2 linked regions of the Homo sapiens genome follow. The protein of the gene in region 1 interacts with the protein of each later gene in a pairwise test. Each region holds a gene or a part of one and is shown on either strand. Other genes may lie near its edges. The genes, in order: CYB561A3 and AOC1.

The links.
Region 2: the proteins of CYB561A3 (region 1) and AOC1 interact in a two-hybrid assay, tested with the Homo sapiens proteins (one large-scale study listed by BioGRID).

What each region holds. Positions count from the first base shown.
Region 1 is NC_000011.10:61,351,749-61,355,562, forward strand, and holds part of CYB561A3 (lysosomal membrane ascorbate-dependent ferrireductase CYB561A3), read right to left. Parts: intron 2,245-3,814; coding exon 2,036-2,244; intron 1,815-2,035; exon of another isoform or gene 1,684-1,814; coding exon of another isoform or gene 1,626-1,683; exon of another isoform or gene 1,435-1,625; coding exon of another isoform or gene 1,392-1,434; coding exon 1,237-1,391; coding exon of another isoform or gene 1,112-1,236; intron 1-1,111. UniProt on the Homo sapiens protein: Transmembrane reductase that uses ascorbate as an electron donor in the cytoplasm and transfers electrons across membranes to reduce iron cations Fe(3+) into Fe(2+) in the lumen of the late endosome and lysosome.
Region 2 is NC_000007.14:150,858,636-150,862,193, reverse strand, and holds the end of AOC1 (diamine oxidase [copper-containing] isoform 2 precursor), read right to left. Parts: intron 3,432-3,558; coding exon 3,146-3,431; intron 1,751-3,145; coding exon of another isoform or gene 1,694-1,750; coding exon 1,561-1,693; intron 1,252-1,560; coding exon 985-1,251; 3' UTR 690-984; downstream 1-689. UniProt on the Homo sapiens protein: Catalyzes the oxidative deamination of primary amines to the corresponding aldehydes with the concomitant production of hydrogen peroxide and ammonia.

The sequences.
Region 1 (3,814 bases):
CTACAAAAATAAAACTTAGCTAGGTGAGGTGGTCCATGCCTGTAGTCCTAGCTTACTTAGGAGGCTACATTGGGAAGATCGCTTGAGTGCAGGAGTTTGATGCTGCAGTGAGCTATGGTCACACCATTGCTCTCCAACCTAGGCAACAGAGTGAGATGCTATCTCTTGGCTGGGGGGATAAAAGGAGAGAGAGAGGGTCTTCCTATGTTGCCCAGGCTGGACTCCTTCCACCTCAGCCTCCCTAGTAGCTGGGACTACAGGTGCATGCCACGGCACCCAGCTGTAATAATCCTTTTACCCATGAGGAAACTGAAGCTCAAAGCAATGAAATTAACTTGCCCAAAGTTGCATAACTAGTAAATGGCACAGCCAAGATCGAAACCAAGGTCTGACCTTAAGTCCTAGTTGCTTTTCACTACACCCCATTGCCTCAAAAGAACGGACAGTAGTGGTCAGGCATGCAAGGCTCTAGAGTCAGACTGCCTAATCTGAGTCCCAGCTCTGCCACTTACTGGCTGTGTGCCCTCGGGTAAGTTACGTAACCCCTCTGTTCCCTCATTTTTTTTATTTTTATTTCTACCTGAACAGTCCTATTGCAGAATCTGTTCCCTCAATTGAAAATGGCAATGACGGCCGGGTGCAGTGGCTCATGCCTGTAATCCCAGCACTCTGGGAGGCCGAGGCGGGCAGATCATGAGGTCAGGAGTCCGAGACCAGCCTGCCCAGCATGGTGAAACCCCGTCCCTACTAAAAATTCAAAAAATTAGCCGGGCATGGTGGCACACACTTGTAGGCCCAGCTACTTGGGAGGCAGAGGCAGGAGAATTGCTTGAACCCAGCAGGTGGAGGTTGCAGCGAGCCAAGATTGTGCCACTACACTCCAGCCTGGGCGACAGAGTGAGACTCCATCTCAAAAAAAAAGAAAAAAGAAAATGGCAATGACAACAATACCAATCAATACCAATGATGTAGGGTGGTTGACAGGATTAAATGTAAGGTGCTTAGTACTGTTTCTGACACACAGCAGGTGCTAAATCAAACTGATGCTCAATAAATATCTGCTGACTTACCAATTTCAACCTAAAGAAAGATCAATTCTGTTACCTTCCAGATCAGGAGTGGACCCAACCCCAAAATCTCTCCTCCCTTGGGTGAGTCCTGTGATCACAGGGTGTATCTTTTGAAGACCCTATTCCCTCCTCTTCACCTTAGAGTTGGGGACCCCACTGCACTCACAAACTGAAGAAAAGCTTCTCATTAATGCCCGAAATGACGGATGCGATGGACAGAGAGAGGATGGCGGCTCCAAAAAAGACGTGGATAGGTTTTAGGAGGCTGCGCAGCCACATGGACGCCCAGGGCAGGAGGAAGACAGCAAAGCCCAGGAACCACTGTGGACAAAAGGGAGGACACACCCGACTGTGCTATGTGTGACCAAAGCACATCCCACCCCATCAGTGCCTCCTCCCCATCTCTGCTCCCTGGCTCTTCTTTCACAACTCAAACCTTCCCACCTGGCATTGCCCACTACCGTGCTAGCTTCCTCATTGTGGCCTATTACCCAAGCAACAAGAACAGTAAATGACATGCTTAGCTACCATCCCACTCCCAGCAAACCCAACCACCTTGTTTGTCTCTGGTTCCTTCCAGTCCTTGCTCATAAAACTCTTCACTCGCACAGGCCTGAGATCAGAATATGGAAACCACTTCAAGAATTCTTTTGGTTCACAGAGGTGGGAGTGGGGAAAGTGGAAGCCAGATGGCTGATTAGAGTCAGCATAGTGCGTGCCATGACAAAGTTAGCAGAGAGGGCTCTGGGACGAGAGACGGGCAATGGGAGGGATAAAAGGAACAGGGTAAGTTCAGGCCACTGACCTCCCACAGCCCTTGAATAAACTGTCAGTTCTACAAGATAACAATCTGCAAGTCCCTCTCCAAGCAGTGAGCAGAGGAATATTTGGTGCTCATGCAAGTGAACCCCCAACCAGAGCTCATGGCTCTGGGAACCTCGAGGAGGAGAACAGAGAGAACCCACCTGGCAGGCGAAGAGGAAGACAGTGGTGATGCCCAGCCAGCTGTGAAGGGAGTAGAGGTTGGCAGTCCTTCCATGGTTGTGAAACGTAAAGACAGCAACCAGCCCCACAACAGTGAGGACGAAGGCCATCAGGTGCAGCGCTGCATGGAGGAGTTTCCAGGGCAGTTTGGGCCCCACCCACGACTGGGGCAGGCGGTACACCAGTGACGCTGCAGGAGAGAGTAGTGCCAGGGCTCAGCCTCTCCCCTCGAGCTCACCCAGACATCAGGGAATAACCCTGATAGGATCCTACACAGCTTCCCAGCAAGGGAACAGGAAATGCTAGGGCACTGGTATCAACTCCTCGGCATCTTCTACCCTCCCATGATTTGTGGGATAACAGCCATGAAGGGAGGAGAGAAGGGCCAGTTAAAAAGGGAGGAGTGGTCAGGCAAGGTGGCTCATGCCTGTAATTCCAGCACTTTTTGGGAGGCCAAGGTGGGAGGACTGCTTGAGGCCAGGAGTTTGAGGTTACAGTGAGCTATGATCATGCCACTGCAATCTAGCCTGGGCCACAGAGAGAAATAAATAAATAAACAGATTCCAATTAAAAAGGGAGGAGGGCTGGGCACGGTGACTCATGTCAGCACTTTGGGAGGCCAGAAGTTCAAGATCAGCCTGGGCAACATAGCAAGATCCTGTGTCCACAAAAAATAAAAATAAAAAATATTATCCGGGCATGGTGGCACATGCCTGTTCTCTCAGCTACTTGGGGGACTGAGGTGGGAGGATCACTTGAGCCTAAGAGTTCAAGGCTGCAGCAAGCTATGATCATCCCACTGCACTCTAGCCTGAAAAAGAGGGAAACCTGTCTCCTAAAAAAAAAGTGGAGGGGGGAAGCAGGTTTCTTGGACCTCTCATTCTATTTTCACAATAATAAATTCAGCTTGTTTGCAGTTTCTAGGCTAAAAAGCATCATGACAGTCATTGTTTCATCAAACTGAATTGTCACAAGTGAGGCTGGCTGTCAACACAGGTACTAAGGTCAGGCAACATAGGTCCAAATCCAGGCTCTGCCTCTTAGCTGTTTGGCCTCTCCTTTCTTTTTTTTTTTTTTTTTTTTTGAGACAGAGTCTCGTTCTATCATCCAGGCTGGAGTGCAGCGGCGCAATCTCAGCTCACTGCAAGCTCCGCCTCCCGGGTTCACGCCATTCTCCTGCCTCAGCCTCCCAAGTAGCTGGGACTACAGGTGCCTGCCACCATACCCGGCTAATTTTTTGTATTTTTAGTAGAGACGGGGTTTCACTGTGTTAGCGAGGATGGTCTCGATCCCCTGACCTCATGATCCGCCCACCTCAGTCTCCCAAAGTGCTGGGATTACAGGCGTGAGCCACCACGCCTGGCCTGGCCTCTCCTGTCTAACTCTCAATTTCCTCATCTGTAAAAGGGATATAACAGAGCCCACCTCACAAACTTGTAAGAACAAAATGGGATGATATATGTGAACTGCACATGGTAAGCTGCTATCATCAATGGCATCGTATTGCCATTTTACAAATGGGGAAAATGAGGCTCACCAGGGCCCCAAGGCACAGATTTGAAAGCATGGGACAAAGATTACAAAGATGGATCCCAGGTTGGGCGCAGTGGCTCACACCTGTAATCCCAGCACTTTGGGAGGCAGAGGCGGGTGGATCACCTGAGGTCAGGAGTTCGAGGCCAGCCTGACCAACATGGTGAAACCCCATCTCTACTAAAAAATATAAAAATTAGCTGGGCATGATGGCGGGCACCTATAAT
Region 2 (3,558 bases), on another chromosome or scaffold:
ATCAGCTAGAATTGCACTGTGAGGTTGTGCCACAGTTCATTCAATTGGGGTTTTCTACAGATGAGAATTTGGTTGTTTCCAGACTTTCGCTGTTACAAACAATGCTGCAATGAATCACTTTGTACATATGTCGTTCCTGTGTTTACAGGTGGATCTTGGGGATAAACCCCCTGAGGTTGGGCCAGTGTGCCAATGGATAAAGGCATGGTGATCCTGCTAGATCTCCCTGTAGCATCTTCTCTATGGTTGTGCCATTTTGCAAGCCTGTCACTGACACTGGGAAATTCCCTTGCAGCCTCCCCAAGAGAAAGTTGTCACTCTCAGATTTTTTTTTTTTTTTTTTTGAGACAGGGTCTCACTGTGTCTGTGTTGCCCAGGCTGGAGTGCAGTGGCGTGATCTCGGCTTCTCAGCTCAAGAGATCTTCCTATCTAACCCCCTCTGCCCCAGGACTACAGGCGTATGCTGCCCTGCCTGGCTAATTTTTTTTGTATTTTTTAGGAGAGATGGGGTTTAGCGTGTTGCTCAGGCTGGTCTTGAACTCCTGGACTCAAGTGATCCTCCCATCCTCCCGTCTCAGCCTCCCAAAGTGCTGGGATTACCAGCGTGAGCCACCGTGCCTGGCCAGTCTCAGATTTTAAAAAAACAATCTGATAGGTGCAGGATTTCAGCGAGCTTCCTTTTTGTTAGTAATGGTGGCTTTTCTGGACTGCAGTAGACCAGTGTGAATAAAGTACATGCCATGTGTGTGCATGTCCGTGTGAGTGCGTGCACGTCTGTGTGTGTGCACGTCTGTGTGTGTGTGCATGTCTGTGTGTGTGTGCACGTCTGTGTGTGTGCACGTCTGTTCGTGTGTTTCCTACACACATGGCCCTGTGCCTCCCCGCAAGAAGCAGCACACAGAGCGAGGCTCTGAGGGTTTATTGTCTGCCCCAGTGAGGCTCCTGGGCTTCCTGGGAGGAACTGGGGGAGGAACTGGGGGCTGGTCACACAGGTCTATAGGTCCCATTGTAGCTAAAAGGGGGAGGCATCGAGCAGTCCCTGTCCTCAGGGATCCAGCGCTGGACGTAGTTGGGGCCGTTGTCCCGAGGCCACACGATCACAGTGTCTCTGGATGCCAGGGAGGGGTCCTCTGGGAAGAAGTTGAATGGCCGGAGCAGGAAGCCCACGGAGTTCCCAGGTGTGGCTGTGTTGGGAATGTCCTCTGAGTGGGGGATGTGCAGGAAGCCCACCGTCACCCAGGCCACCAGGTCCTGCAGGAGACAGGGTGGGCTTCAGTGGGCAGGGCTGAGTACTGACCACTGGAGGCCACTCTAGCCTTTGGTCATTTTCAGTTCTGCCTGGAAACTTGCTGAATTCCTCTCCAGCCCCTTTTTAAAGAGATGAGCAGCTCTGTTGTGACCTCTGAACTTGCCGTCCACACAGCAAGGCACAGCTCCTGCGACTGGGGACAGATCTGGGCAAAGGGTGGTTGGGACTCCCTGATGGTGATGAGGATGGTCCTGGGCTGAGCTGGAAGGAGGCAGGGCCAGCACCGGGCAGGGCTGGGGACAGGGCAGTACCTCATTTTCAATGTTCTCGTTGTTGTGAAGAAACTGCTCAAAGACCACGGGCGGGTGCCAGGGGTCGTTCTGGTGGTAGATGCTGCTGCTGCACAGCTCCGACTCCCGGTACTTGGTCACTGCCAGGGGGTACCTGCCAGGCACAGGCGAAGCAGCTTGGCTCAGGGCCCTGGGCTGGCCCCCCTCAGTCCTGCCCAGGGAACAGCCTCAGGGTCAGAATAGAGGAAGATGATTGCCTTCCCCAAGATGACAGATCATCTGTCCTGGGAGTCAGCAGGACGGGCTGCTGTTAACCGGGTTCAGGTGACCCACAGGAGTCCTCCCCGCCCCCCTCCCCAAATGCACAGAGACACAGGCCCAGAACAGCAGGCAACCCTTGCACAACACAGGTGTGAGCTGCATGGGTCCTCTTTCTCTCTCTTTCCTTCCTTCTTTTCTTTTCTTTTTCTTTTTTTTTGATGGAGTTTTGCTCTGTCACCCAGGCTGGAGTGCAGTGATGCGATCTTGGCTCACTGCAACCTCTGCCTCCCAGGTTCAAGTGATTCTCCTGCCTCAGCCTCCCGAGTAGCTGGGATTACAGGCGCCCACGACCACACCCGGCTAACTTTTGTATCTTTAGTAGAGACAGGGTTTCGCTGTGTTGGCCAGGCTGGTCTCGAACTCCTGACCTCAGGTGATCTGCCCACCTTGGCCTCCCAAAGTGCTGGGATTACAGGCGTGAGCTCCTGCGCCCAGCACACAAGTCCACTTTCATTTGGAGTTTCTTCCGCCTCTGCCACCGTGAGACAGCAAGACCAGCCCCTCCTCCTCCTCTTCCTCAGCCCACTTAAAGTGAAGGAGACGAGGATAAAGACCTTTGGGATGAGCCACTCCCACTTAATGGATTGTAGATATATTTTCTTTTCCTTAGGATTTTTTTTTTTTTTTTTTTGAGAACTAGTCTTGCTCTGTTGCCCAGACTGGAGTGCAGTGGTGTGATCTCGGCTCACTGCAAGCTCCGCCTCCCGGGTTCACGCCATTCTCCTGCCTCAGCCTCCCAAGTAGCTGGGACTACAGGTGCCTGCCACCATGCCCAGCTAATTTTTTGTGTTTTTAGTAGAGATGAGGTTTCACCGTGTTAGCCAGGATGGTCTTGATCTCCTGACCTCGTGATCTGTCTGCCTCAGCTTCCCAAAGTGCTGGGATTACAGGCGTGAGCCACCGTGCCCGGCCAGGATTTTATTAATAACATTTTCTTTTCTCTAGCTTACTTTATTGTAAGAACACAGTATCTGACACACAGAACCTACAAAATATGTGTTCACGGAATGTTTCTGTTAGTGGTAAGGCTTCCGGTTAACAGTAGGCTATTCGTAGTTACGTTGTGGGGGAGTCATAGTTACACTTGGCTTCTTTACTGCTTTGGGGGGTTGGCACCCCTACCCCCCATATTGTTCAGGGTCAATTGTACACACAGATATACACATACGTATATGTGTATATCCACATAGACTAGGAACCCCATAGACACAAACACAGACAGACACAGACACACACACTGAGGGAAGCCACTGACCCTCCCCCAGGCCCCCTGGGTCTTCCTCACCTTGCCCAGGTGATGGCCTGCTCCTCCTGCCAGCCTGGGGGCAGCACCTGGTCGGCCATGGAGTGGATCTGCAGGCGGTACGTGCGCTTGTGGCCCCAGGGGTTCTCCTGGGGGCTGGTAAAGAGCAGGTACTTAGGCAGCTTCCTTTTGAAGCGGAAGGCCGCCTGGCGCTCCCAGGAGTACTGCGTCTGCTCCAGAGTTGGCTGGACCACGCGGTGTCTTGGGCTCCAGGGGTTGGTGATGTTTTCTAGCTTCATCTGCAGTGTCTGGAAGCTGTTCTTGGTGCCTGGAGGTATGCAGGGAGAAGGAGAACGAGAATCAAGCTGCCAGAACTGAAACCTCCTCATTCTACCCCAGGATCTCCATCCTCCACCACATCCAACAGCCAACTGTCTTGAATAACCGGGATGTTG